Homo sapiens: one gene and its partners. The protein of the gene in region 1 interacts with the protein of each later gene in a biochemical or structural test. Each region holds a gene or a part of one and is shown in the gene's direction. Other genes may lie near its edges.

What was found.
Region 2: the proteins of NODAL (region 1) and ACVR2B form a complex in vitro, tested with the Homo sapiens proteins (one study listed by BioGRID).
Region 3: the proteins of NODAL (region 1) and ACVR2A form a complex in vitro, tested with the Homo sapiens proteins (one study listed by BioGRID).
Region 4: the proteins of NODAL (region 1) and ACVR1B form a complex in vitro, tested with the Homo sapiens proteins (one study listed by BioGRID).

What each region holds. Positions count from the first base shown.
Region 1 is NC_000010.11:70,438,525-70,446,230, reverse strand, and holds the start of NODAL (nodal homolog isoform 1 preproprotein), read left to right. Parts: upstream 1-4,549; 5' UTR 4,550-4,563; coding exon 4,564-4,756; intron 4,757-7,706. UniProt on the Homo sapiens protein: Essential for mesoderm formation and axial patterning during embryonic development.
Region 2 is NC_000003.12:38,477,719-38,485,446, forward strand, and holds part of ACVR2B (activin receptor type-2B precursor), read left to right. Parts: intron 1-142; coding exon 143-252; intron 253-422; coding exon 423-574; intron 575-656; coding exon 657-800; intron 801-1,409; coding exon 1,410-1,553; intron 1,554-1,959; coding exon 1,960-2,108; intron 2,109-3,632; coding exon 3,633-3,747; intron 3,748-4,479; coding exon 4,480-4,618; intron 4,619-4,711; coding exon 4,712-4,842; intron 4,843-5,419; coding exon 5,420-5,614; 3' UTR 5,615-7,728. UniProt on the Homo sapiens protein: Transmembrane serine/threonine kinase activin type-2 receptor forming an activin receptor complex with activin type-1 serine/threonine kinase receptors (ACVR1, ACVR1B or ACVR1c).
Region 3 is NC_000002.12:147,910,405-147,918,132, forward strand, and holds part of ACVR2A (activin receptor type-2A isoform 1 precursor), read left to right. Parts: intron 1-4,786; coding exon 4,787-4,930; intron 4,931-6,878; coding exon 6,879-7,022; intron 7,023-7,728. UniProt on the Homo sapiens protein: On ligand binding, forms a receptor complex consisting of two type II and two type I transmembrane serine/threonine kinases.
Region 4 is NC_000012.12:51,982,393-51,990,120, forward strand, and holds part of ACVR1B (activin receptor type-1B isoform a precursor), read left to right. Parts: intron 1-293; coding exon of another isoform or gene 294-416; intron 417-951; coding exon of another isoform or gene 952-956; exon of another isoform or gene 957-1,600; intron 1,601-1,606; coding exon 1,607-1,774; intron 1,775-2,799; coding exon 2,800-2,956; intron 2,957-4,425; coding exon 4,426-4,550; intron 4,551-7,728. UniProt on the Homo sapiens protein: Transmembrane serine/threonine kinase activin type-1 receptor forming an activin receptor complex with activin receptor type-2 (ACVR2A or ACVR2B).

The sequences.
Region 1 (7,706 bases):
TGCCAGCTGGGATGGCCTCAAAGGTTATCTCCCAGGTCAGGGAATCTGACGGTCAGTCTGTCTGGGCAGAGGAAACGAGAAGGTGTCATTCCTCACCTGGAAAAAGGGCACTTCTGGTCTTTCTTATATGAAAGAGATCCTGGACTAACTAATGTCTTTAAAAAGTGAGGGTGACTGTTAGCCTCGGTCCTAAAAAAGCAACAGAGATTCAGGTTCTTCCAGGGATAGTGCCAGAGCCCAAGAAAGTTCAGAGATGGATGAGCTTTGTCAGACAGTTGCTCTTGCGGGTCAGAGAGAAATTCCAGGCCTCCACAGGGCTCTAAGCCAATACACATCAGAAATGAGCTGTCTGCAGCTGTTGGACCCTGGGAAAGGCAAGACGTTATTTGAGAGTTTTTTTAAAAGTCTTAGTACAAGGCACATTTTCACTCCTCTTCTATGGGGAAGCAACGGGTTTGGGTGACAAGCAGACTGACCCTTCACATACTGGCTGTTTCCACTTGTAAATTTGTGGCTTTGGGCAAATTATCTGAGCTTCTGTTTTCTCATCGTCTCTGAAGTGGGGATGAGGATAAAATCAATGCAATTATTAGCAGAATGTCTGGTGCATTAGGTGCTCAATAAATGTTAGCTATGGTTATTATTATTCATTTTACCTTAAACAGTGAGCGCCGGCCAGGCGCGGTGGCTCATGCCTGTAATCCCAGCACTTTGGGAGGCCAAGGCGGGTGGATCACAAGATCAGGAGATCGAGACCATCCTGGCTAACACGGTGAAACCCCATCTCTACTGAAAAATACAAAAAATTAGCCGGGCGTGGTGGGGGGCGCCTGTAGTCCCAGCTATTCAGGATACTGAGGCAGGAGAATGGCGTGAACCCAGGAGGCGGAGTTTGCAGTGAGCCGAGATGGCACCACTGCACTCTAGTCTGGGCGACAGAGCGAGACTCCGTCTCAAAAAATTAATTAATTAATTAATTAAAAATTAAAAAAAAGAAGCTTCTGGTCCAGCATGGAAAGCATGCCATCTTTTTTGTTCCTTCCCAGTCTCAGTGGATGAGGGTGCTCTGAGCTGAGCTGAGCATGTTTAAACAGGGACCACCTACACACTAGGCCACATGGTGATTTGGTAGACCTGGGTTCTGGAATTGGCTTCACTGCGTCTGACTCCTGCACCTCCATCTAGTTGTCTGTGCCTTCCCTGTGCTGCCATCCTTGGAACCTGAGTCCTGGTCAGAGGCTCCCACAGCACAAACCACAACCTGTCATTGTTGTATTTATATGTGCATGACCTGGATGAGGGTGCCTTCTGCCTCTGGGGAGGGGTCTGACACAGAGGGCTGAGGCTGAGTCTCTAGGCTGGGGAAGTCAGATGACAACCATGGACCACCCACAATAATACCCGCATGCATCATCCTCTACGGTGACATCAGGTTTTAGAGCTTGTAAAGCATTTTTACATTCATTTCGTTTAGTCTACATGGGAGGAGTAATCTCTAGACAAGTTTTGCAGATGAGGAAACAATGTAGAGAGGTGGGTTACAAACTGCAACAAGAACCCTAGCCCATGTGGGTCCCAAAGTTGGCTGATCAGAATCACTGGAGGGCCAGGCTCATGCCTGTAATCCCAGCACTTATGGAGGCCAAGGCGGGCAGATCACTCGAGGTCAGGAGTTCGAGACCAAGATGGTGAAACTCCTGTCTCTACTAACAGTACAAAAATTTAGCCAGGCGTGGTGGCATGTGCCTGTAATTCCAGCTACTGAGGCAGAAATTACAGCTACTGAGGCAGGAGAATCACTTGAACCCAGGAGGTAGAGGCTGCAATGAACCGAGATTGTGTAACTGCACTCTAGCCTGGGTGACAAAGTGAAACCCTGTCTCAAAAAAAAAAAAAAAAAAGTATCACTGGAGTGCTTGTGAAATATGTAGATGACCATGCCCTCTCACCAAATTCTAAATCTGAAGGTCTGGGTCTGGACTTGAGAATCAATAGTTTGGCCGGGCGCAGTGGTTCACGCCTGTAATCCCAGCACTTTGGGAGGCTGAGGCGGGTGGATCGCCTGAGGTCAGGTGTTTAAGACCAGCCTGGGCAGCATAGCAAAACCCCATCTCTAATAAAAATACAAATTTTAGCCGGGCATGGTGGTGGGGACCTGTAATCCCACCTACTCGGGAGGCTGAAGCAGAAGAATTGCTTGAACCGGGGAGGCAGAGGTTGCAGTGAGCCAAGGTCGTGCCATTGCACTCTAGCCTGGGCGACAAGAGCAAAACTACATCTCAAAAAAAAAAAAAAAAGGGGAGTCAACAGTTTAACAAACACCAAGGTGATGCGTATCTTCAGGCAAGTTCAGACATAGTGCCATTCACTGAATTTTTTTTTTATTTTTTTGAGACGGAGTTTCACTCTTGTTGCCCAGGCTGGAGTGCAATGGCGCAATCTTGACCCACTGCAACCTCCGCCTCCTGGGTTCAAGCGATGCTCCTGCCTCAGCCTCCCGAGTAGCTGGGATTACAGGCATGTGCCACCACGCCCAGCTAATTTTGTATTTTTGGTAGAGACAGGGTTTCTCCATGTTGGTCAAGCTGGTCTCAAACCCCCGACCTCAGGTGATCTTCCCACCTCAGCCTCCCAAAGTGCTAGGATTACAGGCGTGAGCCACTGCGTCTGGCCTCACTGAATTATTTACTTGTTTTTATTTTTTTTTTTTAAAGAGGGTCTTGCTATGTTGACCAGACTGGTCTCAAACTCCTGGCCTCAAGCTATCCTCCAGCCTTGGCCTCCCATGTGTTGGGATTACAGGCATGAACCACCACACCTGGCCTGAATTATTTACTTAACACAGATTTTTTGGGTTCCAACGATGATGATGGTATATACTGTGTGACAGCAGGATGAACAAGACATTTCCAGCTTTAGGAAACTAACAGACTGTCCAGGGCTCATGTGGTGGACAGCCCAGGTCTCCTGAATCTTAGATGAGGCCTCCAGCTATGTGGGACAGCCTCCTCCCCTAAGACAGAGGACAAAGGCTTGGAGCTCCTAGTTGAGCCTGCTGGGCCTTTCTCCATTTTCTAACAACCTGCTCAGGTCGCAGCCTATGGTTCTTTTGTTGTTGTTGTTGTTGTTGTTGTTTTGTTTTTTGAGACAGGGACTCACTCGGTTGCCCAGACTGGAGTGCAGTGGCCCGATCTTGGCTTATTGCAACCTTTGCCTCCCAGGCTCAAGCAATCCTCCCACTTCAGCCTCCAGAGGAGCTGGGACTACAGGCGCACACCACAAAAATGCCTGGCTCATTTTTGTATTTTTGGGTAGAGACAGGGTTTCACCATGTTGACCAGGCTGGTCTTGAACTCCTGAGCTCAGGTATCTGCCAGCCTCATCCTCCCTAAGTGCTGAAATTACAGGTGTGAGCCACCGTGCCTGGCCAGCAGCCTATGGTTCTTTTGAGCTAGAGGCATCCTGTGAAAGAAGTCAGGTGTATAGAGCACTTAGCACTATGCCTGGCGCTTAGTAAGTGTTCAGTAAGTGTTGGCCAGCAGCTAAGTGCTTGTCAAGGCTAGGTAGGTGGGGGGAGCTAAGAAGAGAAAGAGCCCTCAGGTGTAAAGGAAAACGGATGGGGCCAGACACTGGGGCAGGGATTTACATTTCTTTAAAAGTCATTCCAGCCCTGATTTGACTTTGCACCTGGAAGGGAGGAGGCCAGACAAGATCACTCTTGTGCAAATAAGGAAAGCTGAGCCCAGAGATCAAAGTGAGTGGCCCTGAGCCGACACCCAGGTCTTCTGTGGCCCTGCCACACCAGGCAGGGATTGGGGGATGTGGGCAACAAGGGTAACACCTTTCCTCCTGAAATCACTGGGGTGATGTCTGCCTGTCGGGGAAGAGCCTGATGAACCAGGATCACCCCGTTGGCTCCATCTGGCTCCAGCTTCTGCTGAACACTCCCTTTTCAGGTGGAGAAGTCATCGTCCTGGTCCCTCCTGCCTTCTGTCTTCCCCAGGAAAGCACTTCAGTATTTGGTAGGGCCAGGGGTGCTCCCCGAGGCCATCTAGACAGTGGCCAGGGAGGCTGCGCCGGCCAGATTGTGTCAAAGTCTGCCTGAGAGCCACGAGGATCCCTCGGCATTCTCTTCCTGCTTCTTGAGGAGCCTGCGGTCCATTTGCAGCCTGAGTGGAGAGGATGGGGCAGGGATCCCAGGTGAGGTCGAGTAAGGAAGTCGCAGTTCTGACCTGGGAATCTGCCGGGACAAGCCTGCTCTGTCTCAGCATCAAGGCGTTTGGTACCTAGAGGAGCAGGGTGCCAGGGTGTCCAGACCGGGCAAACCAGGAGCCCTAGATCCCGTCCCTGGAACTAGGTCCTCCGCCAGCTTTGCGGGCCTCCTCCGCACCAGGCTCAGGTCTCGCCCATCCCCAGCAGGAGGTCTCTCTGCCCCCCACCCTCCGGAGGGGGGTTATATGATCTTAAAGCTTCCCCAGAGGGAGGAAAGGTGGGGGCGGGGCGGCTGCTGAGGCCCAGGATATAAGGGCTGGAGGTGCTGCTTTCAGGCCTGGCCAGCCCACCATGCACGCCCACTGCCTGCCCTTCCTTCTGCACGCCTGGTGGGCCCTACTCCAGGCGGGTGCTGCGACGGTGGCCACTGCGCTCCTGCGTACGCGGGGGCAGCCCTCGTCGCCATCCCCTCTGGCGTACATGCTGAGCCTCTACCGCGACCCGCTGCCGAGGGCAGACATCATCCGCAGCCTACAGGCAGAAGGTAGGCAGTGCCGCGTGCCGCGCCCTGCTGGGCACCCCCGGGGCGCCTCCGCCGCGTCCAGCCAGCGGACTCGGGAAGTGCTGTGGGTTGGGGGCTGCGGCTCCGAGCCGGGTTTGCAGCCGCCCGGGCGTCCCGAGCCCAGGGCCTAGCTCTGCGGGTGTCTCCGCGTCAGCAGGCTCGGGGTGCAGCGTTGGTGGCTGGGGGCGTATCCACGGCCGAGTCGGGAAGGGATTCTAGCGTTCAGGGTGTGTCCTCGACGGGGACCATTGTCTCTGGGTTTTGGTTTGGGATTGCGCGGAGCGCAGCGCGGAAGGGTGGGAGCTTCTAATCTCCAGTCTTGTGAAGTTGCTTATCCCGGAGCCTGGGTCTGCGCATCTGTAGGATAGGTGTAATAAATAACACCTCGCCTATCAGACTGTGGAAAGCGCGAGATGACAATGCGCGCGAAACGCTCAGCGCAGTACCCGGCACAGCCACAGTCAACGGTCGTTGGTATTACTGTAATGGTTTGGTCTTGGCGATTTTTTTTTCTTTCTGCGAGTGAGGGTGAATGGGTCCCGGGGTGTGACGTCGGGAGTATCGGCAGCTGAGCTGGTAACATCGGGGATTCGGGCTCACGGCCCGGAGATCAGGGATGGGCTGTCCCGAAGTCGCGAACTGTGGCAGCCTTGGGTCCTCCAGCCGCGCCGGGGAAGTGTCAAGTGTCTCGCTTAACCCCGGGTTCGGGGCCATGATTTGCAGGGGAGTGGGTGTCAAGGACGGCAGGGATCTGAGGGTATCGCCCTCGAGGACCTGGCAGCGCGTTCTGGGCACCCAGCGCGGCGAGCAGGTGGGTGCTGCGGAGAGGGAGCCCCTTCCGCGCCTCAATCCACATTCTGCCGCCTGGGCAGCCGCGGCCGCCCACGCCTCCCTCCGCCTGCGGGGGCCAGACGGCCCTCCCTGGGGCCGGGGCGCAATCCACAAACGCTAATCTGATCCGACCTGCCGCCTGCCCGCCCCTTGTGACCTGGTGCCGGGGGCCCTTCGCTCCCGCGCCTGGGGTCAGACAGCCGGTGACCCTCTCCGGAAGGGTCATCTGGGGACCAGCCAGACCAGGGGACACCCTCGGGGGCGGGGCAATGAGAAATTTGCTGGAGTGCTCGGCCCCTCAACCGAAAAGCGGCCGGGGATGGGAGGGGGCAAAGAAGGGAGGGAGCGCTTTTCCAGTTCACTCCCTTCTGGAAAGTTCGAGATGTGTGCGGTGATGGACAGGCATCTGGAAACTGGGTTCTAGGCCTCAAATCCTGCTTCCTGATTCCCTGTTGTCCCTGGCGCGTCTTGGTTTATCTGCCTTCCCTTCTGTAAATTAGGAGACTGCTCTCTTTCAGCTAAACACTGTTTTTTTGTTTGTTTGTTTTTTCTTTGAAACAGAGTCTCCCTCTGTTGCCCAGGCTGGAGTGCAGTGACACGATTTCGGCTCACTGCAACCTCCGCCTCCCAGGTTCAAGGAATTCTCCTGCCTCAGCCTCCCGAGTAACTGAGACTACAGGCGCGCGCCACTGCGCCCAGCTATTTTTTAATATTTTTAGTAGACACAGAGTTTCACCATATTGGCCAGGCTGGTCTCGCCTGGTCTCGTGGTCCGCCTGCCTCGGCCTCCCAAGGTGTTGGGATTACAGGCGTGAGCCACTGTGACCGGCCTAAACACTGTTTTTTAGTGTACAGCGGCATGTGGCACAGTTACGTTGTGAATTGGCCTCATTTTCTAAGAGCAGTGGGAAGAGCCCGCCTGGAGGGAGACTGGAGGAGAAGGGATGTCCTGGCCCCACTCCTTCCATCTTGGGTTTATTTAGAATAAGCTGCACCGCAGTTGCATGAAAGGGATGTTGGAGTCCAATTGGGTTTACATCTGTATCTGTTGCCGTTTAACCTTCACCTTGGACCTTCAGTTTTCTCATCTGCAAATGGTGAGATGAGAGGAACAGTGAGGAGATTTAGAGAATGCCTGTGAAACACTTGGCACACGGGAAGCCACTGATGGTAACGACCCTTATAATTTATGAAAATGTAGAGTGGGTGCTCAGTGTCAGGTCCTTACAGCCCTGCCTCACAGCCCTGTCTGGGGACGGCGGTGTCGGTGACTGGAAGGGAACCCAAGGGTGTGAGCCACTTTCTTCTTCAGAACTGGAGGTGGGGCCGGGCACAGTGGCTTACGCCTGTAACCCAGCACTTCGGGAGGCCGAGGTGGTCGGATCATGAGGTCAAGAGATCAAGACCGTCCTGCCCAACATGATGAAACCCTGTCTCTACTAAAAATACAAAAATTAGCTGGGCATGGTGGCGCGCACCTGTAGTCCCAGCTACTCGGGAGGGTGAGGCAGGAGAATCACTTGAACCCAGGAGGTGGAGGCTGCAGTGAGCTGAGATCGCACCACTGCACTCGAGCCTGGCCACAGAGCGAGACTCCATCTCAAAAAAAAGAACTGGAGGTGGGCCAGGAGGACATCAGGGGCATCTGTGTGGCTAAGTCTGCATTCAGCATATGAATGGGTTTTTGGGTGTCCATGAACCCCTTCCTCATACCCACCTTAAAATCACATTTGTTGTATTTGGATGTGTGTTTCTTTCTGATAACATTCCTACCTTGCATCAGGCACCAGTGACACCCACAATATTAGAACCCTTATTCTAAGATGAACCAGAGAACCTATCAGCCCTGTTCCAGGGCACCCTGGCAGCAGTGGGAGAAGGTAGGAAGGGTCACAGACTTCTTTCAGCAGGAAGGAGCAGCCTCTTCCCTACCCAGCCTTTCCCACTGCCCATCCTGTTCATAGGAAACTTTGCACCCCTGTCCAGGTCCTTGTGGCCTGTCCGGACACCTTCATTTCTAACTCTCGGACCTGGGCAATAATGAGGCAGCTGATGATGGCCAATGTTTATTGAACTTTGGTTGTGCTGGGCATGGCACATT
Region 2 (7,728 bases), on another chromosome or scaffold:
TCCTGTAGGGGAGGTGAGTTCACACCGTCCCCCTGGTGTTGCCCATGAGGTGCTCTGTCTGTGAGGAGGGGTTGGCAGGGCAGGCCTGGGGGAGTCTTGCATCCCCCAGGTGAGGGGTATATGGAAAATTCTGTGCCTCCAGGCAGGAGTGTGTGGCCACTGAGGAGAACCCCCAGGTGTACTTCTGCTGCTGTGAAGGCAACTTCTGCAACGAACGCTTCACTCATTTGCCAGAGGCTGGGGGCCCGGAAGGTAAGGGGGCAGTGTGGAAGTGGGGCCTTGAGTCAGCCGACCTGGGCTTCTTTGGCTTGGAGCGCTTGGCTCCTCAGTTGGGTGGGGTGTGGCTACAGGGCCCTGTAGTCTGGCTCTGGAAGTGTGAGGGTGGGCAGACTGTTTGACACAGGGCTCTGTGTGTCCCCCAGTCACGTACGAGCCACCCCCGACAGCCCCCACCCTGCTCACGGTGCTGGCCTACTCACTGCTGCCCATCGGGGGCCTTTCCCTCATCGTCCTGCTGGCCTTTTGGATGTACCGGCATCGCAAGCCCCCCTACGGTCATGTGGACATCCATGAGGTGAGACAGTGCTGGCTTGGGGCAGGGCAGGATAGAGGTGGGGAGGACAGGCCAGACCTTTTTAAGCCTTGCTCTCCCCCAGGACCCTGGGCCTCCACCACCATCCCCTCTGGTGGGCCTGAAGCCACTGCAGCTGCTGGAGATCAAGGCTCGGGGGCGCTTTGGCTGTGTCTGGAAGGCCCAGCTCATGAATGACTTTGTAGCTGTCAAGATCTTCCCACTCCAGGTGAGTGTTTGAGGGGCTCCATCCAGGTCCTCTGCCTCCACTGTAGCTTGAACTGGAGGCTCTCCTGACCTGGGGCAATCCAAACCCCAAATAATATTGTGGTATGAGAGAAAAGTGAGCCTTACTGGGCCTAGTTACTCATGTTACACTTGGCTGGTCTGTAGATTTCATGCAACTATGGAATTTTATCATAGGACTAGGGTAGGGCTTTGCAAAACCTTGATTTGCCCCGGTTACCAGGGTTTTGTTTTTGACATTGGGTTCTTTCCAGCGGCCCTGGACACCAGGTCTGGCTCTGCCTCATTTGTTGGGTGATACGGGGTCACTCACACCCCATGCATGGACCTTAGTGGCCCCATTTGTAAATCGAAGTGCTAGCCTTAAGTGATCTCAGGGATCACTGTTGGCCTCATGCTCTGGGGCCTAGCTTAATACAGGTCTTCTCCTGGTCCCCTTACAAATGCTGAAGCTGGGAGGCTGGGGGGTGGGGATTGGGCTGGGAGGCTTGAGGGTGGGGAATGGGGAATGGTTGTTCTGCTGTAGGGCAATGTGACTGCAGCAGGGCTAAGCCAGCCACTTGTCCCCCCAACCCCTCGCCCCCGGCCTCAGGACAAGCAGTCGTGGCAGAGTGAACGGGAGATCTTCAGCACACCTGGCATGAAGCACGAGAACCTGCTACAGTTCATTGCTGCCGAGAAGCGAGGCTCCAACCTCGAAGTAGAGCTGTGGCTCATCACGGCCTTCCATGACAAGGTGAGCCACACCCATCAGAATGGACTCTGAGAGGAGATGGAATGTCCCCTTGGTGGCTCTCCATAATATGATGACCCCTTCCCTGTGGAGGTGTCCACCATGAAGTACTCTGCCCCGGTAGCACTATCCACTATGGGGTTACTCCTGCCATAGGTGTGGACATTGGTTCCCCTATGATAGGAACCTCTCACCCTGGGATAAGTTTTTATGATAAGAGTAGTGACTCCATGATTCCCACCCCTAGCCCTCCCTGCCTCCTGGCCTCATCCATCTTCCATATCGATTGTAGTAGCCTTCCAGGAGAGCAGCCTAGCCATTGGCCCACTGAGACTTCTCTGCCAGGGCTGGGCTGGGTCCTGTCCTGTACCCAGAATCTGTGCTCAAGTTCTGTGCTGTCTTCTCTCAGGGCTCCCTCACGGATTACCTCAAGGGGAACATCATCACATGGAACGAACTGTGTCATGTAGCAGAGACGATGTCACGAGGCCTCTCATACCTGCATGAGGATGTGCCCTGGTGCCGTGGCGAGGGCCACAAGCCGTCTATTGCCCACAGGTACCTGGGTCAGCAGGTGCCTTTCCTGCACTTGACCTGGAGCTGTGGGAAGGGTTGGTGGGCGAGAGCAGTGTCTGGAGATGTCTCAACTTCCTAAACATACTTACCCTGCTTGCTGTGTGTCCGAGGCAGCTGGGCACAAAACCTGGCCTTCCCACTGTGTCCTGGGGATGGCATGGCCTCCCAAGCTGGTTTTTGGTGCCCTCTAATGGCCACATGAAGTGCTGACTCCATTACTTTGGTTGGAGAGTTGGCTCAGTAGTTCTCAAATTTTCTAGTTTAGGATCCCTTTATACTCTTAAAATGACTTTTGTGTAAGTGGATTATGACTATTGATATTTGCTGTATTTGAGCACACCCACACATCCCATTCGCTGTCAGAGTGAGGACATCACATCTCATGTAGCCTCGGGAAAACTCTATGCTCCTAAGAGAATGAGCCTTATAAAAGCAAATAAATGAAAATAATTTTGACTTTATAGATTCCCTTGGAACAGTCTTAGAGATCTTCTGGGGTCCTCGAACCACCCTTTAAGAAACTCTGGATGAGCTCATCACTGTCATGCTTACTAAATGGCAGGCAGTGCTCTAAACACTTGAGAAGTATCAATTCATTTGACCTTCATTACCGCCCATTGAGACAAGTACTGTATTTCTCAGCTCTGTCTTGCAGATGGAGGAACAGTAGTACAGAGAAGTTGAATGACTTAGCCAAGGTCTTGTAGCTAGTTGAGTCTGGTTCTGTGACTGTGAGGGAGGGGAATGAACCTCAAATTCCAGCGTTCAAAGCTGAAGGGTCCCTGATGGTAATAACAGTAATGACATAGAAGGTAGACTGTATGAAATTGCCGTTTTTATAGGTCAAAAGGTTGAATGTTGTCTCTGCTATATGGCTCAACTTAATAGGAATACCTAGTAAGTATGCCAGGTGTGGCCCTAAACATTTGCACTTACCACTCAGTCGAATCCTCACAAGGCTGAGACAGGCACTGGGGAAACTGAGTACCACAAGTAGCTTTGCTTAGTTAGAGGTGGAGCTGGGTGCATGCAATAGCACCCTTGCTCCAGCCGGCCTTCATGGTGAGCTTGAGACCCTAAGGGGTCTCTGCAGGATCCTAGGAAAGCTAATATTAAATTCCTATTCTCATTCACATTCCAAATGCTGTAAATTCTTCTCAGAAAACTTGCATCCCAGGCCAGTGTGCCTGTCCACAACCCCTCTGAGAATATATGGGCTGGCCTTTGATAGTGTGGGGACTGGGACAGGGTCTGCCCAGCCATTAGGGTAGGTGTTGCTTTGCCAACCCTGGGGGAAGCCTTCCATCTGAAGTGCACTGAGGGATTCTCACACCCATGTCGGCGCCTGCAGCTGCCTGCTTGTGCTGCTTCACCTCTGCACCCCAGGTAGGGTGGGATGGCCTGGTCTGGGGCCTGACTCTAGGGCACAGACTCTAGTATCTTGGGAACCAAGGTGGGAGTTGGATCATGATGTTAAGCTTTATCTCTGCCCACTTGTTTCCACAGGGACTTTAAAAGTAAGAATGTATTGCTGAAGAGCGACCTCACAGCCGTGCTGGCTGACTTTGGCTTGGCTGTTCGATTTGAGCCAGGGAAACCTCCAGGGGACACCCACGGACAGGTAACAGGCCTCACAGGGCAGGAAGAGAGGGACAGACCCAGGGTAGATACTTTGCCCTTTTTGTGCTCAGCTGGGGAGGTGCAGGGATGAGGGTGACTGCATGCGTTCAGAGCTGTCTGAGAACTTAGAGCAATGCTCTTGTTTGACCAGTGGAGAAACCAAGACCAGGAAGGCAGTGTAGTTTAGCTTCCGTAGGACAGTCAGCTGGGAAATGTAGAGATTCCCCACTGGGGTTTTGACCACTAGTCCTTGCAATCTTAGTCTTTCTCTCACTTTTTTAGTTTTAATTCCTAAGACAAAACAAAGAAATGTACTAAGGATCCAAACAAAGAACCTGGAAAAAGTAACTAAAAATTAAACTTAGGAAATCATTCCTAAAACAATCACTGTTATTATTTTTTAAGTGTTCTCCTTCCCTCTTTGTTTTTGGTCTTAATCTCAGTCAGATACATATCATCTGTAGTTCCTTGTATTAATTTGGTAACAATTCCATTTTAGATTACTATTATCTCCAGGATATAGTATTTAAAAATTATTAGCCAAGTATAATTGATGCTGTGACCTCTTGTAACTGTTGTGAATGTGGTGAATCGAGGTTTGCTATCATTGATAACCTGTCTGAATTGCTCTGTCTTGCCCGCCATCTGGTGCACAGAGGCTGTAACTCCCATGTCCCAGCTGTGTGTGTATGGCCAGTCACTGTAAATCCTGCCCTCCTCTGTCCTCACATAGGTAGGCACGAGACGGTACATGGCTCCTGAGGTGCTCGAGGGAGCCATCAACTTCCAGAGAGATGCCTTCCTGCGCATTGACATGTATGCCATGGGGTTGGTGCTGTGGGAGCTTGTGTCTCGCTGCAAGGCTGCAGACGGTAAGTAGGATGGCAGCCCTGGGCATCCTAGATTGAGTGATAGGGAGCAGTGGGACCTTAGAGTGATCCTGCCAGGCTCTCTCTTTCTCCTAGGACCCGTGGATGAGTACATGCTGCCCTTTGAGGAAGAGATTGGCCAGCACCCTTCGTTGGAGGAGCTGCAGGAGGTGGTGGTGCACAAGAAGATGAGGCCCACCATTAAAGATCACTGGTTGAAACACCCGGTAAGGGGCCTGGTTCAGGCAACTTTGCAGGGGGGTGGAGAAGGGAAAACCCTTCATGTGTAGCAGGTAAGCTGAAATCAAGGGGGAATGGGCAAATAGAAAGTCTGCGACGTTCCCTGGACTCTAGGGATGTGTTCCAGGGGTTATGGGGAGTGAGGTAGGATGATGTCCTTCTCCTGATCCCCACTTTGACTGAACTGCTACATTTTGGGCACTTGTATGGTTTGGGCTTCCAATAAGATTTTGTTTGAATATCAGCACTTCAAGGCAAGTAGTGGTGTCTATCCTAGTAGGGGCCTTGGTGTCTCCTTCTCCCTCCTGTGTATGTTGAGGTTCAATGAACCTTTCCTAGGGCTGTGGAGTGAGGCCAGTAAGCTCAGAAAGATGACTGCCATGAAGGCAGGCATGCTGATTCCTGAAGTTTTCCCCAGGCCTCTGCTGGTGGACCTGCTGCTGTGGTTGGGGCTGGTGGGCTCTGCCTGATCCTTGGGAATATCAAGTTTACTGTCCCCCAAAGCTTTTCCTCACTGAAGGGTCCTAACAAAGGTGTCTTTCCTGTCTGCCCTATGCTGCTTAGGGCCTGGCCCAGCTTTGTGTGACCATCGAGGAGTGCTGGGACCATGATGCAGAGGCTCGCTTGTCCGCGGGCTGTGTGGAGGAGCGGGTGTCCCTGATTCGGAGGTCGGTCAACGGCACTACCTCGGACTGTCTCGTTTCCCTGGTGACCTCTGTCACCAATGTGGACCTGCCCCCTAAAGAGTCAAGCATCTAAGCCCAGGACATGAGTGTCTGTCCAGACTCAGTGGATCTGAAGAAAAAAGGAAAAAAAGTTGTGTTTTGTTTTGGAAATCCCATAAAACCAACAAACACATAAAATGCAGCTGCTATTTTACCTTGACTTTTTATTATTATTATTATAATTATTATAATTATTATTATTAATATTATTTTTTGGATTGGATCAGTTTTTACCAGCATATTGCTCTACTGTATCACAAACAGCGGACACGTCAGCAGGCGTTGAGGTGCTGAGCTGTGGATGCAGAACCAGCGCCATGCTGAAGAGCCTCAGCCACCTCCTGTCCTTTGGGATTCGTTTTTCCCGCTTTCTCTTTGTTTGTCGTCTCAGAATCTGTGACACAAAGAAACCCATCTCCTGTCTTAGGAAACCTAATGCTGCAAACTCTACCTAGAGGAACCTTTGAAGACTGTTACATAAGAACATACCTTCCTCAGAAGAGGAGTTTCCTCTGCCCTCTGCCCTTCTCCCCTGCCTCCCTCCCTCCCCTCCTTTTATTTTGTTTTAGTGAGCTTAAGAAACAGCAGATGTGTCTTTCACGGATCTAACGGGTGTTGTCCTGATCGAGAAAAAAACTGGGATGAGAATGGTTTGGACTGGAGTTGGAAGGGGAGGACGGTACTGGGGGTAGGGTTTGGAACAGAGCTACACTGGACTCGGGCACATTCGGAGCAGCATCCTTTAGTATGGAGGCTACTTCTCAGGTAACCAGGAATTGAGGGGAAGGACCTTGTGGAGGCCGAGCATTAACAGCAAGAGCGGGGTTTGGAGAAAGTCTGAGATTGGGTGCAGCCCTGACTTACCTGCTGGCCCTGACCAGTTTCTTTTCACTAACTTGGCCTTGGGCATAGGATGAAACATTTTTTCTGCCCTAATTTTAAAACTAGGTGAGGGTAGAATCATCACAGGTTAGGAATACATTCTTCATAAGACACGATGCTGTAAATACCCTTAATGGACGAAAAGTTGAAATACTTTTGTTTCCTCTTGGAGCAGTTCAGGGAAATGCCCACAGGGGATTGTCCTGCACAGATAGGGCAAGAGGATTTCCTGGGTGGAGTCTGCCAAGGCCTGCCTCGCTGGGGACCCCAGAGTCCTGCACCTCTGGTTCCGCCCCAGGTGGTGACATTACTGTCCCCGTTCTGTGGCTCGTGGACAAGACTTTCTCCAGACCCCTTAAAGTGGTACATATTCTAAAAAACTGTTTTTCTATTATGCCATAACCTTGCTCTAGTCAGTGAATGTTCCTAATGCTGCTGTTTCAACATTTGAATTCTTTTTAATTTATGAAACATGCTAAATTTTTTTTTTCAAACAAAACACACACATCCACATATACACATGCTTCGCTATGTGGCTTCCAAGGTTTAAATTTTGAAAAGTAAAAGAATTAAAACTTCACGACCACAGATCACCTCAAACCAGAAATACCTCAGAATTTTCTACTTATGTAAGGTTTATTATATATTTTGTTAGTTGTGTTGTCTTGTAGTAAGTATATTTTAATGTAAGTTGGCTTTTGTGACAAGGAAGTTTAAAAGAAATAGAGAAAAAGAAAAAAGTTTGCATCTTCTAGGGAGTGCTACCATTTTTGTTTGATAACGCCCCCTTGTAAATAATTGTCATCAACTGTAGGTTGGCTGTCTGGGCCAAGTCTGGGCATTTATCAGTCTTGTTTGTGAAGGCTTTTCCTTCTGGTTTCTTTAGATCATTTTATTTAAAAACAGTGCATCTCTTCATCGTGAGGGTAGGCAAGGCGGGGGCCGTGGGGAGAGGTTGACCTGGGTGAGAACTGAAGAGGCCGCCTCCTCTTGGGTTGTTTGGAGCTTCACATGTAATTCACATGTAACATGTAACTTGATCGGTCAGTGTTCAGAATGACAAGTAACCCCGCTTAAACTTGGTAGAAGGATGGCCCTTAGACCTGAATGGGGTGATTTTACTTGGGATTTAACTTCTTCAGCAAATTAACAGCAACGTTGGAAGAGATCTGTGGCGCCTCTGTGAAGCACACCGTGACTCAGGCCAGTCTTTTAGTGCAGCGTGTCTGGGAGTGAAGGGTTTTGCCCTTGCTGGTCTTGGAGTCC
Region 3 (7,728 bases), on another chromosome or scaffold:
TCTTTCAAGGGATTAATTTTACTCTGGAGTACTGGATAAGATGTTTTGATAGTAGGATTATCTCAGCCTTTTGGATGAATTATAAATACTCTTGAATCATTATCACAGGAAGAAAATCTAGAAGGAAGAAAACTAGTTAAGCAACTGGTACAGATAAATGAGTTGTCCATTCTGTTTTGTCAGTGCTATTGTTCTCTATAGAAATATTGGAAACTGGGGAACATAGCCATCATCCATTGGAGGAATTCTCAGCCTTCCCTACCACTGGTGATCATATTTCTTTTAATTTTAAATTTAGACCCTTACCTATTTTGGGATGACTGGAAAAATGAAAATCCTGTTCTCTATCAGTGTCTGAGTGTCTTTAGAATGTGAGATGTGTGATTACTTGTTCCCAGGGCCACCTCTGCTTAACTGCTTCACCTTGATGTGCTGGGCAAGTAGGTTTGATAATATTCTGTCACTATGTTTTACTTAATTCTGATGATCTTGTTTTCCTGTCTTAGTTTCTTGCCATGGTGTATTATGGTGCACGCACATAGCCACCAGAAACATTTTTCTGTCTCACCATTATGATTCTGTCTTCCATGAAAGGGAAGTGAGGCAGTTCAGGAAATAGGAAATTCTAGAGGTTCTTAAGACAACTATCAGAAAGTCTGAGAAACTGATTTCTAGCTATATATAAATTTGTTAGGGCTGCTAGCTCGTTTTTGCTAAAGGCAATACTGCCCTCTAGTGTCGAGAAGGCAATTCCAATTTGTAAATTCCTTGTTTTATAATTTAGACTCTAGAGGCTCTTAGAAAAATAAATAATCATTATTTAAGACTTGATTTAGTTTGTTTGCAGGCATGAAGTCATTGGATCAGTTAACTTGGGATTAAACTGGAGTCAAGAATTTGTTTACCACCTATCTCTCATATCTAAGGGGTTCTTTTTGATATTACTTTCCTCTGTTTGTAAGGAAAGTGTTCCCTATCTTTATTTAAACAATGTAAAACTTTGGATCATTGCCAACTTTTAAAATACTAAACCATTATTCTCTTTCCTTCACTTTTGTAACTGATGTGTCATTTTTCATTTCATTCTGGATATGAATCGTAATTTCTTTTGCCTGTGTTTTTTCTTCACAAGCACGCCTTTCATATAATGATAGAGGTAAGATGCATTGATGTTTGTTTTATGGTTGTGGAACTTTCTGTGGATGCATACTAAACATTTTGTTCTTAGATTTTTGTTGTTGTTACTGCTTTACTGTGCATCCTCTATAATTTATATATTTATGTCATAAAGGGTTCTCCCTCACCCAGCTTTTATAATTAAAATGTGATTGATTTGACTTAGGAATGGCTTTTAGTTTTAAGAGACTGAGAGTATTTATATTTATTTAAGGTAGGATGTAGAAAAAACCGTTTTACTTGATTAGAAGTTAACACCTTAACGGCTCCATTCGCCTCAAAAACCTTGTATTGGTTAATTTTTATATGTCATTAGCTTAAATGTCAGCATGTGTTCATTTTTAACAGGGGTCGATTTTCTAATCCAGCCCATTGTATTTAAATGTGAAATAGATATTTTTAGATAGCTTCATCTTTGGCATCTTTAGCAAATGAACTAGCTACAGGAGTATAACTTTTGATGATATTTTGCTATCTGAGGTTTAAGCGTTTAATTAGATTAAAATTCACCCTTCAAATGGAGAACTCAGAATAAGTAAAATGATCAGAGATGACTTTGTAGCTTCCCACCTCTAATAATTTATTCCACTGTTGGTTATAGTAATGATATTGGGTAGTGGTTTGGGGGCAGGAGATTACTTTTTACCAGGTTATCATTTCAGTATGTGTTCTGAAGCTGATGTCTTCTGATACCATAATTTTTACATATAAATGAGTAAAGAAGAAATGTAATCAGAACTGTGTTTGAATGCATATCTTTTTAGTTTTGCAAAATAGCATGGATGTTGTAAGAGAACTGGAAATTTAGGGAAGTTTTTAGGAATTCTGAAATCCTTCTAGGTGCCTCTCAGCTCCCCATTGGTTTCTCTATGTAGCCAGGTAAAGCCATATTTTGTGTATGACATCAGAAATTGCTTGTCATTTTGAAATTTATGTCTACATTTGTCTTCCCAGGGGCTCATATATTTTAAAGGTATACATTTTTATTTTTAGAATCAAGTATTGATTTTTTTGTGAATAAATTACTATAATGATGCCAATTAATTGAAAATCATTTCTACTATTATAGGATGAGTGAAACTTACAGATGAATTTAAAGTTTCATTCTAGTAATTTTTTATTTAAAAAGGATTAGAGATTTTATAATCTGTCCTACAGTTATCATTTTTGAACCCAATCCTTTGTGTATTAAAGAATATTATTTAAAATTCCATTTTTGAAAAGCTCATGTCATTGCTAAAGGTTTTGAGATTCTACAGGAAGACCTTGTAGACCTTTTTGTCACCCTTTCGAAATTGACCAGTATTCTTTCTAATTGAAGCTTTTACCTTTTAAGTAATTTTGACAACAATATTTGTTCTGGCTGTTACTATACAATATTGAATAAATTATAGTAGGAGGGTGATCTAAGATTATTTCTTTCTGAAATAATGATAGCTTAGAAACTTGTTAAACAGAGCCTTGGGAATGTATGGGAACTTGAAGTATATGCATTTGGAAAACATTTAATGAACTTTTTTTTTTAATGTAGATATTAAAAATTATTTTTTCTAAAATTAATGTTATACTAAAATCATAGTTTGAATTGCTGACATATTAATTGTGGATTAAATAATCTATATCTTACAGACTGAATCATATTCATGTTGTTGATGTCCTTTAGAACAGAGAATGGGTAATGTGTAGATTAACTATAGAGACATTACCAGTGTACATAAAAGCTATTAAAAATCTTAATATTGTAATTTAGCACTGTATTCCCTCTACCTAGTTATTTTTCCTCTTCAGCTTTCAGCCATTTTCTGTATACTTTAGTTTTTAGTTTTTGGCATCCCCTCTGGTTTGAAACCTATCTCTCTACCTTTCTAACATTTTCTATTTAGTTTAAATATGTCTTTATGCAGTTATACAATAACTCTTTGCCCTTGAGGACTGAATGGTTTCCTTTCCTGTAGAAGAGTTGTTTTCAAGCTTTTTTTCTCTTGTCTCCACATTCATATAAGCAGTCTGCTCTGATCAGTAGAATTTCTCGGATAGAGGTGATCACTTGAAGAATGAGGGAGGGAGGGTGTAGTTTTTAATAAAAACTCTCTAGAGGTTCTTGTGTCCCCTCCACTGAGAATCACACTTGAGAGCCCATCCTTCCTATAAGATTTATATCTGACCTCCTTGACCCGTCACTCTGCTAAACAGAAACGTTCTTTCATGTTTTGAATGTGGGAAGGACAAGCAACTTGTAGACAAAAAAAAAAAAAAAAAAAAAAAAAAAAAGTCTGAGTTTGAAATGAGTCACAAGAAGTCTTTTGTTTTATCTTACTGTTTAAACAGGAATTCTAAAGCCATTTTATAAAGATGGTTTCATTTAGAAGAAGAAATTGCATGTTTTTCCTACATAACACCTTGCAATGTTTCTGTTGCTGAGGTTCTTTCTAGTACACAGTAAACTTTTAAAACTCCTGAGTGGCACCAGTGAGCTGAGTGATGCCTAAAGAAAGCACTAACTGTCTTTGAGGCATTAGAAGAAGAGAGAAAAAGAAAGGCAGAGAGGATGCATTGATCTGGGATCACATACCATTTCCAAGTGTCTGAGGTGCCACCCAGTGTCATCATATCAGTTGCTTTTGCCACAGAAATTTTAGTTCCTCCTCAAAATACTCATTATGCAGCCCTCCAAACCCTTCTGTTGCTTTTCTCTGGAAGCTTTCCAAAAGGCTTCCTGCATCTTGCTTTAGTTGCAGATAGGGAACTGAGAGAATGCTTTCAATGGAGGGTTGCATTCTGCTTTGATAGGATTTCCTTGTGATTTGTAGATGCTGTATTCCTATTTATATATTATGTTTGCTCTATTTTTAAAAAACTATAGCAGTGCACGTTTCTTTCATTTACCATATCCTGTTATCTACTATGATGACCACTTCTTTTCTGGATTTTTATTCGTACTTCTTTGCCAGTCAGTCAGTTCCAGAACACAAATGATTTTTTATCTCAGATCAAAGGGATGAATTGTTAATATGTTTAAAATTAGAATGAACCAGTTTGGTTAAAGAAATATTTACTTACATATTTCCTGTATGTGCTTTGTATTTGATATACCTATCTGCAATGTGTTTAAGAATGACTGCCGGTATCTCTGAGATTAATGAAGAAAAAATTTAAACAGTCACTGGAGAAAGTAATAGATCTTCAGGAGAGGTTTTTGCTGATATATAGTCATAATTTGCTGTTTCTGGCACTTTTCAAATCATCCTCCTCGAAGTACACACTGGATGAAACAAATGAAATATTGTTAGGAGTATTTCGTAGTTCACAGAAAATCTTAGTGGGGAATATTACTGAGACTGATCAGAAAGATTTTAGATCTTCTCTCCTGTGGTACATATATAGCAATAATGCTGAACATTATTATGAAACTCTGAATTCAGGTTGCCTGCCTTGTGATCACTATAGATAATTAGTAATCTAATTATGGCAACATTGAAGTTAATGTCATTCATATGTGTTTACTGTTTCTGTCAGTTGACTTTTCAGTATACTCACTTTTTTTCTCATTTTCAGAGTTGGTGTGTGTCATGTTCTGCTTATTTATAGTATTATTATTATTTATCTGTAGGACCCAGGACCACCCCCACCTTCTCCATTACTAGGTTTGAAACCACTGCAGTTATTAGAAGTGAAAGCAAGGGGAAGATTTGGTTGTGTCTGGAAAGCCCAGTTGCTTAACGAATATGTGGCTGTCAAAATATTTCCAATACAGGTATGTTTATTGCAGTTTTGTCATCTTACATACATGTTTTATGGCTAGGTCATCATAACTCAGAAATAGTCTCAAAACAGAAGCCATATGTACCAAGGTGGTTCTTTGTGATACTGGGGAAAGCAGTTAGCTCTTTTAATGCCTGCCTTTGCATCTGAGAAATGGAATTGTTAATATAACAATCATTATGTTTGTCTGGAGTGGTGGAATTAAATGAATGCATAGTAGATCTTTTGCCAGTGAAAATTCTAATAGAAATGTTAAATAAAGATAAAGATTCCAATAAACAAGTCTAATTGAGTGGTTAAATTTTAATATCCCCCTACGTTGTCAGAGAAAGCAAACAAAAAAACAAAAGAGCAGTATACTTTGTTTTAGAATTGGTATTTAGAGGTATATCACCAGACTTGACTTACTTTCATTCTACTTTGAGTGTTTAATTATTTCAGTTTTTGTTTGATGCATTTTCAGAGGCAATCGAGACTTCAAATAATTGGTTTACTGTTGAATTGTTTTTAAGGTTGGCTGGACTTCTCATAAAACTCTGATCTAATGTACCTCTGAGCTATTCTTGTGTTTTGTTTTGTTCCGTTGGTGGTATAGATTTATGATGATTCTGTCTTCCCCATCTCTTGCTTATATACCCTGGCAGCTCATGATACCCTTGGTACTGACGTCTTGGCTGGATTTGGTGTTGCAGGCTCTACCACCATACTTAGAGAGTGGATGTTTCTTTTTCCAAAGTTATCATATAAGCAGTTTCTTTGTCTTAATATACCTAGATTTTAACCTTTTTACCTCCTCTGTTCAATCTTACCTCCTCTGTTCAGTCTATAAACTGTTTACATAGAGTTTATGAACTGTATTACATTTTTTTTTGGTAGCTGTAAACCACAGTTTAGTTTTCAGAGAGAAAGTGTATTCTGTTGTGCCAAGATTCATAAATAAGATAAGGGAAGAAATTATTTCCATGTGTAAGGAAGCATAAAGCTCAGAGAAAGGCATTTGGATGATATTAACAAGCCCGACAACAGCAACAACAGTAGCTAACATTTTATTGTATGCTTTTATTGGGTCAGGTAGGGGTGTTTTACATATATGAGTACTCACTAATATGTGTACGTATATTACCCACATGTACATAAAATGCAACATATAATACAACAATTCTATAAGACAGACACTACAATGCCTTTTCTACTTAATGAGGACACTGAAGGATTATGTAACTTGCCAGAGGTTAGTGGGAGAGCCAGGATTTAAGTTTGGACAGTTTGGATGCAGAGAGTTTCTAAGGGTTTCTAACCATTATGCCATAGTGCCTCTTACTATTATTGTCTTTTAGTAGTGAAAAGAAGCTAATCTTTTATAAGTAGATACTTAGTAGACATGGATTGCTTGCAGGCACAAGTGAATATATGGTGTCTTAAATTATTGCATTGCATATCTTTGCCCCTTGCTTTCTCATAGACCTTGTAGGGTATGCTAAACATTTTTTGAAGGATGTTTGATATTATGTTAGTTTTTGAAAAGAAGAAGTTTTCTATTTAGAGGAAGTCATTCTGCCGGAATTTCATCTTTCAAGGAGATTATTCTGAATAGTACCACAAGTAACTTCACACCATGATGAAATTACAGTGTAATACTTGCAGTAACTTACGTGTTGCCATTGTAAGACACAGAATGCAGCATTTCCGATCACCTTCTGTGTTTGTAAACTAGAAACACAGAAAAGTACGTTTTGAGGGAATGAAAAGGGCAGGCATTTAGTATAAATTTGTTAACCTATTGTCAGAGCTTTTTCTTATTACAAAACAGAACAAAAAATTTTTTAAGACTTTTTTGTTTTGTTTTGTTTTACTTTGGAACTTATTTGAGTAATCTCTTATGCATGGTTTATTAAACCTGTATTCCTTGTGTTCTTACTATTCTTTCTTTTTGACTCTAGGACAAACAGTCATGGCAAAATGAATACGAAGTCTACAGTTTGCCTGGAATGAAGCATGAGAACATATTACAGTTCATTGGTGCAGAAAAACGAGGCACCAGTGTTGATGTGGATCTTTGGCTGATCACAGCATTTCATGAAAAGGTAAAACTACTTAACGTTTTACTTTAGTAAAGTCTGAGTTGGCCTGCCTACCTAATGCTGGCTATAAATCCCTCAGAGTTATTTTTCGAGACATCTTATAGTTGATTAATATTTAACCTGAAAATAAAAATCATTCTTGAATAAAAATGTTTTAAAAGGTAGTTTATTTTAATAAAAGAGCAAAGATGGCAACTTTTTAACCTAAAACTCTACTCATATAAACCACCCTTTTGTTCCTTATTTCTTGTGCTGTAATTACTCTTACAAACATTTATTTTAGTGTAGGTAATGCTTAGTAATTTTCATTTACCATTTACAATTCATTTTGATTACGTGAACCATTTTTTTAAGTTTTAATCAGTCTTGCTTGTGACAAAACCAGAGTCAGGAAATTTATCTGATCTTTGATCTGTCACTAACTTGCAGGGTAATTATCACCAAAATGTAATTGCTAGTTTTCCTCAATTTTTCTACTTTTAGAGTCAGTGTGAAAGTACCATTAATGAAGTAGGAAATTATGTTTTTGGTAATTGGTTTCATCATTGTGAAATGTAAGTGGTTCTTTTACTTCTCTTATCTTGACCTAAAGGACAACAATAATCTAGAGGAATATTCTACATATTAGTTGTTATTTTATGTTGTTATTTTGTGTTCTGCTAGTCCCATGATATAACAACTCTATAGTCAGGATATTTTAACTTTTAAA
Region 4 (7,728 bases), on another chromosome or scaffold:
AACATTTATTGACTGCTGTGGGCCAGACCTCTGCTGGCTGCTTGGACCATCACACATAAGAGCAAGACACAGTCCCTCCCCTCACAGAGCTCCCAGGAAGAAGGGGACAGACACGTGGACAGGTAGTGGCACCCGGAGCACAGAGAGGATGCTGTGAGTGGCTGGTTCACATTGTGGAAGGGTCTCTCTAGCAGTTGTGACATGACTTGCTCCTGTGGCATGGTGCAATTTAGAAGTTAGTGTCTACAAAGCCTACAGAAGATGCTATTTGTTTTTCATTCCTGAAACAACAGCAGACTGCTCATTCCTCACATTGCCATGGGAAGTTGTAATGGTCTCTGCTGCCCCCAAGCTGAGGAGCCTTAGACTCCAATACAAGGGAGGAAGGGGAAGAGCAAGATTTTTATTCCCACTGAGTAAGCTATTCCTTTTTAAAACTATCACCTTTTGATAAAATTTAAATCTTATATGTTTTAAAAGGATCAAATCATGTCTTCTCTTTGAACTTGTTAGCAGGGTCCTCAGGACTTTGGGGCTGGTTAGAGTGCGAGAAGCAGTGTGTTGGGTGGGCCCCTTGTTTGTGATAAGAGAAGCCAAGATGTGTGTGTTTCCAGGATCCATCCCTTTATTGATTCTGGCAGCTTGTGTGAGTAGGGATCTGGCTTTCAAAACCCACCTTAAGGCCAGGGAAGGGAAACAATCAGACTCCCTCGTTCTTGCCTTTTTAACATGGGGTATATATAGTATGGTGCCCTGGAATCAGCGCCAGCCTGGAATTTTGGAGATTTCAACTCAATTTCCAGTCTTCCAATTGACAACGGCATGGCTTAATTCGATTCCTGGCTTTGGTGTTTCTTTTTCTCCCTCCTCCTGCTCTCCTCCTTCCTGCTGTCCCTAGTGTAAAAGAGAAAATAAAGTGTATGCACTCTACCTTCCATTGCTCCTCTGAAGGATGAGATGCCTTTCTGGGAATACTTGGAAGTGGTCTATTCATGCACTGAAAAGCATTTTTTGGCCTGGAATCCAATAATCCATAAAGGAGATCTTTCCTACTCACAGAGATATCATAGCCTGGTAAGAACAACAGACTGAAAAGAAACATTACAGATGAGACAGGTGCTGTGTTTGGGCTGTGTTCAGAGGGTCGCTGGGACACAGGAGGCCCTCCAAGGCTTTCCTGTTTGGTGGTGGTAGATCCAGCTCATTGTGGTTCTCCCGTGCAGATGAGCAAGTCTTGGTCAGGATCAAAGCAGTGCTGCACACAAAGCTGGTGATAGCTGTTACCTTCCCCAGGCATATGCCTCCTCTTTCCTGAGTACCTCACATTTCAAATTTGACATAATGTTCAGAATCCTACAGTTCACCTAAAGGAAATCAGGAGCAGTCCTAAGAAAGAAATGGTGTTCCCCTGTCCTTACTGAGGTCCCAAACTGGTAGACCACTATAAATGAAAGGATGCTAGATGGGGCTTCAGGGGGCATGGAGGTGGGAAATGTGAATTCAGGAGTCTAACCTGATTTTGTGTTGTATACACTCATCCTTACCAACCTTCACTGTTTTGCTGATAGTTACACTTTTTCTGGGACTCATCTGTGGTTCTCTGCAGATAATGGCACCTGGACACAGCTGTGGCTTGTTTCTGACTATCATGAGCACGGGTCCCTGTTTGATTATCTGAACCGGTACACAGTGACAATTGAGGGGATGATTAAGCTGGCCTTGTCTGCTGCTAGTGGGCTGGCACACCTGCACATGGAGATCGTGGGCACCCAAGGTGAGTGGACTAGCGCAGGAGCGGCGAAGTGGTGTAGGCATGAAAGGTCCGCAGTGTCCTGATTTAGTTCCTAGAATTCCTTTTTACTGAGGAAGTTGGGGCTGGACCTCAGGAACTCTAGTTTAATTTAAAGGAAAGGAGGTTTGAGCTTCACTTAAGTGAGGTATCTACAGGGTGTTCCCTTCACCTCTGTCTTGATAGAACTCCCTCAGGAACCCTATAATATCAATATTCAGCTACTTGTCAATCAGTGGCTTGACATAGTCATTTGTTACGAAGGAGTAATCATCTTAGAATCCCACAATAGACATGAGAAAAAATGGAACTAAAAAGATAAACCAGTGTACTGGGAACATCAGTTTAGTGATTTCCATGTTCATTGATGGGGACAGCTGGCTTAAAGGCCACTTGGTGGATTAGATTCTGGGCCTTACTAATCTGGGAAGGTTTTCCTGGAGGAAGAAGACCTGAAGCTCTGCTACTTGTTGATTATCATGTCGGCTCTTTGGGAGATCCTGGATCTTGTCACAATGGCAGGTGTGATCCCTGATGCCTGGTTGACCAGGGCCACAATGGAAAATCACCCGTGAAAGTTGGATCCTATTCCTATAGCCTGTGCGGTGCCAGTTCTCATCATCGGGCCTGTTTCCTTCTGAGAACTAGGCATTGCAGCAACTTCCCTTCAGTCCCTCAGCACTTCTGTACCTGAGCATATTTGCTCAGGGAAGGCGAGTAGTAGTAGTAAATATTAATACAAATATTAGCTAAATACACATGTCCTTCTATGGTCGTAACTTAGCTACATGAATGCATTTAATCCTCACAACAGTCCCATGAAATAAGTAGTCATTCTGATTTTATGGATGAGAAGACTGAGGTACAGAGGGCTAAAGTCACTTTTCCAGGGTCACTGGATTAGCAGGAGGCAAAGCCAGGACTCAAACCTATACAGTCTGGCTGCATAGTCTATGCTTTTAACATTTATATCATCTCTTTGTAAAGATCCCTGTTTTTTTCTCTGCCAGGGAAGCCTGGAATTGCTCATCGAGACTTAAAGTCAAAGAACATTCTGGTGAAGAAAAATGGCATGTGTGCCATAGCAGACCTGGGCCTGGCTGTCCGTCATGATGCAGTCACTGACACCATTGACATTGCCCCGAATCAGAGGGTGGGGACCAAACGGTAGGAGGGCCTGGGACTCTGCCCTTGCTAAGCAGCTTCTACTGAGTATCCCATCTGTGCCGTTTCCCATATGCGCAGGAGAAGGAGGTGTTGAAAAAGGAGGCGAGGACCTTGCTCTCAGCCCACTGAAAGTTGAATTGAACATGCACTCCCCACAATGGAAAGTTGCATCACTGCATCTAACAGATACAAGTGCTGAGAGCACAGCTCCATAAACTGTATGCACATTGGTGTTGGTGGTATTAAGGTCGGAGGGTAGAGAAGGACAATCTAGAGCAGGATTTAGAAGGATAGCAGGCAACAGGTGTGGCTCGGGAAAGAGGGAAAACACTGTCATCTCCTGTGCAGAGAGCTGTGAAGGAGGCAGGGAGCATGTGCTTAGGGACTGGAGACCAGATTTGCCAAACTATAGCAAAGGTAACCCAGGATAGAGATTTGGGGCACCCTTCAAGATTATGGGCCTGCTTCCCACTTCATGCAGAAGTGAGGTAAGAAGTAAGGAGCTGTGATTGCAAATTGACTTCATGAGTTGGAAATGGGACTGCCTTTTAATAGAGTGGAAGAGGTGGAAATCTGCTGAATCTAAATGAATTTAATTAAGATTATCCCCTGATTTATTGTGGGGGCTGGGGTGGCTGGAATCATAGTAATTACTCATAATTACTACTCAGAGTCATTAAGGGTGCCGCTGACCACCTCTAGAATTAATTTTGACATATCTATAGTCAGGTAAGATAACAAAAGCAGTTCGGAATGAAACTTAAGCTCAACCCATCACTGTGACTACATTCAATAAAGTGAAGGACCCTGGTGTCAACCAAATATTAGGTACTGTTACTGCCCCTGTGACCCACATTACAAGTACTTCTGCCAAGAAGTCAAAACATGCTTCAAATAAACAAATCTTTACTCTCTCTTTGTTTTTTTGATATGGAGTTTCGCTCTTGTTGCCCAAGCTGGAGTGCAATGGCACAGTCATGGCTCACTGCAGCCTCCGCCTCCCGGGTTCAAGTGATTCTCCTGCCTCAGCCTCCCGAGTAGCTGGGATTACAGGCGCCTGCCACCATGCCTGGCTAATTTTTTGTATTTGTAATAGAGATGGGGTTTCGCGATGTTGGCCAGGCTGGTCTCCAACTCCTGCCCTCAGGTGATCCGCCCACCTTGGCCTCCCAAAGTGCTGGGATTACAGGCGTGAGCCACCGCACCTGGCCAAATAAACAAATCTTGATGGTTAAAAATAGAGATACACATCAGAGTAGCCTGGTATTGCCAAATCTGTGCTGAAGTATTTAGAATCAAATTTAAAACATGGGAGTTTGCAATGAAGAGATGTGTACACTTCTTCTGCCCCAAGGGACTTTATCAGGGTGATACTCTTCCACATTCAGAGGGCTCCTGAATCAATACTTTGATTTAAAGAGAGCAGTCATCATTTTCTGTGCGTGACCATGTTTGTTTTGCTATTGCAGATACATGGCCCCTGAAGTACTTGATGAAACCATTAATATGAAACACTTTGACTCCTTTAAATGTGCTGATATTTATGCCCTCGGGCTTGTATATTGGGAGATTGCTCGAAGATGCAATTCTGGAGGTACCTTTCTTTTTTGCCTTTGCTCCTACCTCCCATTCCAGGATGCTGGATCACCCAAAGCTGTTTTACTGCCCCCTTTCTTTTTACAACCTGTTGGATGCCTGTTGCCAGAGCCTGAATCATCGTTTAAGGTTGCCATCAAAGGTGTGGAGGTAGCTGTGCTTAGGGTGCGTTTATTCTTCAGGGATCAGTTTGTTGAATAGCGTTGTGTGTTATGGTAACCATTCTGAAGGCTCGTTTGGCTTTATAAACAAACAAACATTGTTTTATTAGTCCGTGGCGGGGAGTGCCCCGGTGCGCATAGCACGGGATTCATGCAGTGGTCTCCTTCACATCAGAAGCAGTATATTCTAACGCGGTGGCTCCCAAGCCACATTCATGGGAAACCCTGCTGTTTCATTGTTAAAATAATAGTGCTAATTTCTAAATTTATAAAAGTGCATAGATTTTTCTTAAAAGTGAGTTTTTTCTCCCATAGTTAAAAATCGTTGGCATTTGCAGCTGCTTATTCATGACAGAATCCAGTAAGAAATAGTATCAGATTTAGCAGAAACACTTTTTATTGTCAACTTAGTATATCAGTATTTTATGATAATTTCCATATATTCTGCCACATGATCAAGTTCCAGGACCTCTAGAGCCCTACTCTCAGCCATTTATCTGTGATATAAGAGATTCCAGGGCAGTGAAAGTGATTGAAAAAAAGAACTGGTGGTGCTCACTTCGCCAGCACATATACTAAAATTGGAACAATACAGAGAAGGTTAGCATGGCCCCTGCACAAGGATGACATGCAAATTCCTGAAGCGTTCCATATTTTTTAAAGACCTAGTATTTGATAGCACCACAGGGTGACTATAGTCAATAATATAATTGTACATTTTAAAATAACTGAAAGAATATAATTAGATTGTTTGTAACACAGTGTAAATGCTTGAAGGGATGGATATCCCATTTTCCCTGATGTGATTATTATGCATTGCATGCCTGTATCAAAACATCTCATGTACCCCATAAGTATATACATCTACTGTGTTCCCACAAAAATTAAAAATTAAAAAAATCTAATCTACAAAAAATATGACAAGTCTTCCAGCAGAACTGTTTTGTATATTAATACCCTTTTCCAGCTTCCATTTATGACATGTTTGGTAAAATCCAAATTATGGAAATAGTGCCCAGGTAGTATTCATGGAATTGTACCTCTTAAATTTTGATCAGTATATGCAGTAAAACAGACTAAGAGGCCAGGCGCAGTGGCTCACGCTTGTAATCCCCAGCACTTTGGGAGGCCAAGGCAGGCGGATCACGAGGTCAAGAGATCGAGACCATCCTGGCCAACATGGTGAAACCCTGTCTCTACTAAAAATACAAAAATTAGCAGGGCATGGTGGTGCACGCCTGTAGTCCCAGCTACTTGGGAGGCTGAGGCAGGAGAACGCTTGAACCCTGGAGGCGGAGTTTGCAGTGAGCCAAGATCGAGCCACTGCATTGCAGCCTTGCGACAGAGCGAGACTCCATCTCAAAGAAAAAACAAACAAACTAAGAAAAATCTGGTCACACAGGTCTTAAACTGTGAATAAGTTTATTTCTTCTTATGACATCCAGAAATTGAGGCTAAATATATAATAATGCTAACATTTATTCACCACTTGCTATGTATAAGCTCATTTAATCTTTACTACTACAAGTAAATAATAAGTAGGTGCTATTATCATCGCCATTTTACAAATGAAGAAAATGAGTCACAGAGAAGTTAGGAAATTTGTCTAAGGTCACATAACTATTTTAGTAAACAAGGGTTCAGACTCGGACAGGCTGAGGCCAGGGCTTAAGCCTGTAACTACCCCTTAGATAATTACCAAGTCCAATTCTCTATTTAAAAATATTTCCCAGGCTGGGCACTGTGTCACACCTGTAATCCCAGCACTTTGAGAGGCCAGGGTGGGCTGATTACCTGAGGCCAGGAGTTTGAGACCAGCTTGGGCTACATGGTGAAACTCTATCTTTACAAAAATAAAAAAATTAGCCAGACATAAAGGCCAGGCATGGTGGCTCACGCCTGTAATCCCAGCACTTTGGGAGGCCAAGGTGGGCGGATCACCTGGGAGTTCGAGACCAGCCTGGCCAATGTGAAGCCCTATCTCTATTAAAAATACAAAAATTAGCCGGGTGTAGTGGCGGGCGCCTGTAATCTCAGCTACTCAGGAGGTTGAGGTAGGAGAGACTCCATCTCTACTTAAAAGAAAAAAAATTGTCTCATTAGCTCAAGACAGCAGGGTTTTTTTGTTTTGTTTTGTTTTTCTTTTTCTGGAAAAGGGCTTGAGAAAAATTAATTGGCTTTTTATTTTTATTTTTTTGAGAGAGGGTTTCTCTTTGTCACCCAGGCTGTATTGCCATGGCACAATCTTAGCTCACTGCAACCTCCGCCTCCTGGGTTCAAGCCAGTCTCCTGCCTCAGCCTCCCGAGTAGCTGGGATTACAGGTGCCCACCACCACTGCGGGCTGATTTTTCTGTTTTTAGTAGTGATGGGGCTTCATTGTGTTGGCCAGGCTGGTCTCGAACTCCTGACCTCAGGTGGTCCACCTGCCTTAGCCTCCCAAAGTGCTAGGATTATAAGCGTGAGCCACTGTGCCTGGCCTAAATTGGCTTTTTAAAACTATCTTTTTATTATGGAAAATCTTTCTAAGTTTGTAGTTCTTAAAGATGAGGACTTAAAAAAATGCAGTGCTATTACCACACTTTAAAAAATGAACATTAGGCCGGGCGCGGTGGCTCATGCCTGTAATCTCAGCACTTTTGGAGGCCGAGGTGGGCTGATCACAAGGTCAGGAGTTTGCAACCAGTCTGGCCAACATAGTGAAACCCCGTCTGTACTAAAAATACAAAAAAATTGCCAGGTATGGTAGCGTACGCCTGTAGTCCCAGCTACTTGGGAGGCTGAGGAAGGAGAATCACGTGAACCAAGGAAGTGGAAGTTGCAGCAAGCCGAGATCGTGCCACTGCACTCCAGCCTGGGCAACAGTGGAGACTCCGTCTCAAAAAAGGAAAAAAAAATGAACATTAGGGGTCAGGTGCGGTGGCTCGCACCTGTAATCCCAGCACTTTGGGAGGCTGAGGCGGGCAGATCACCCGAGGTCAGGAGTTCAAGACCAGCTTGGCCAACATGGTGAAACC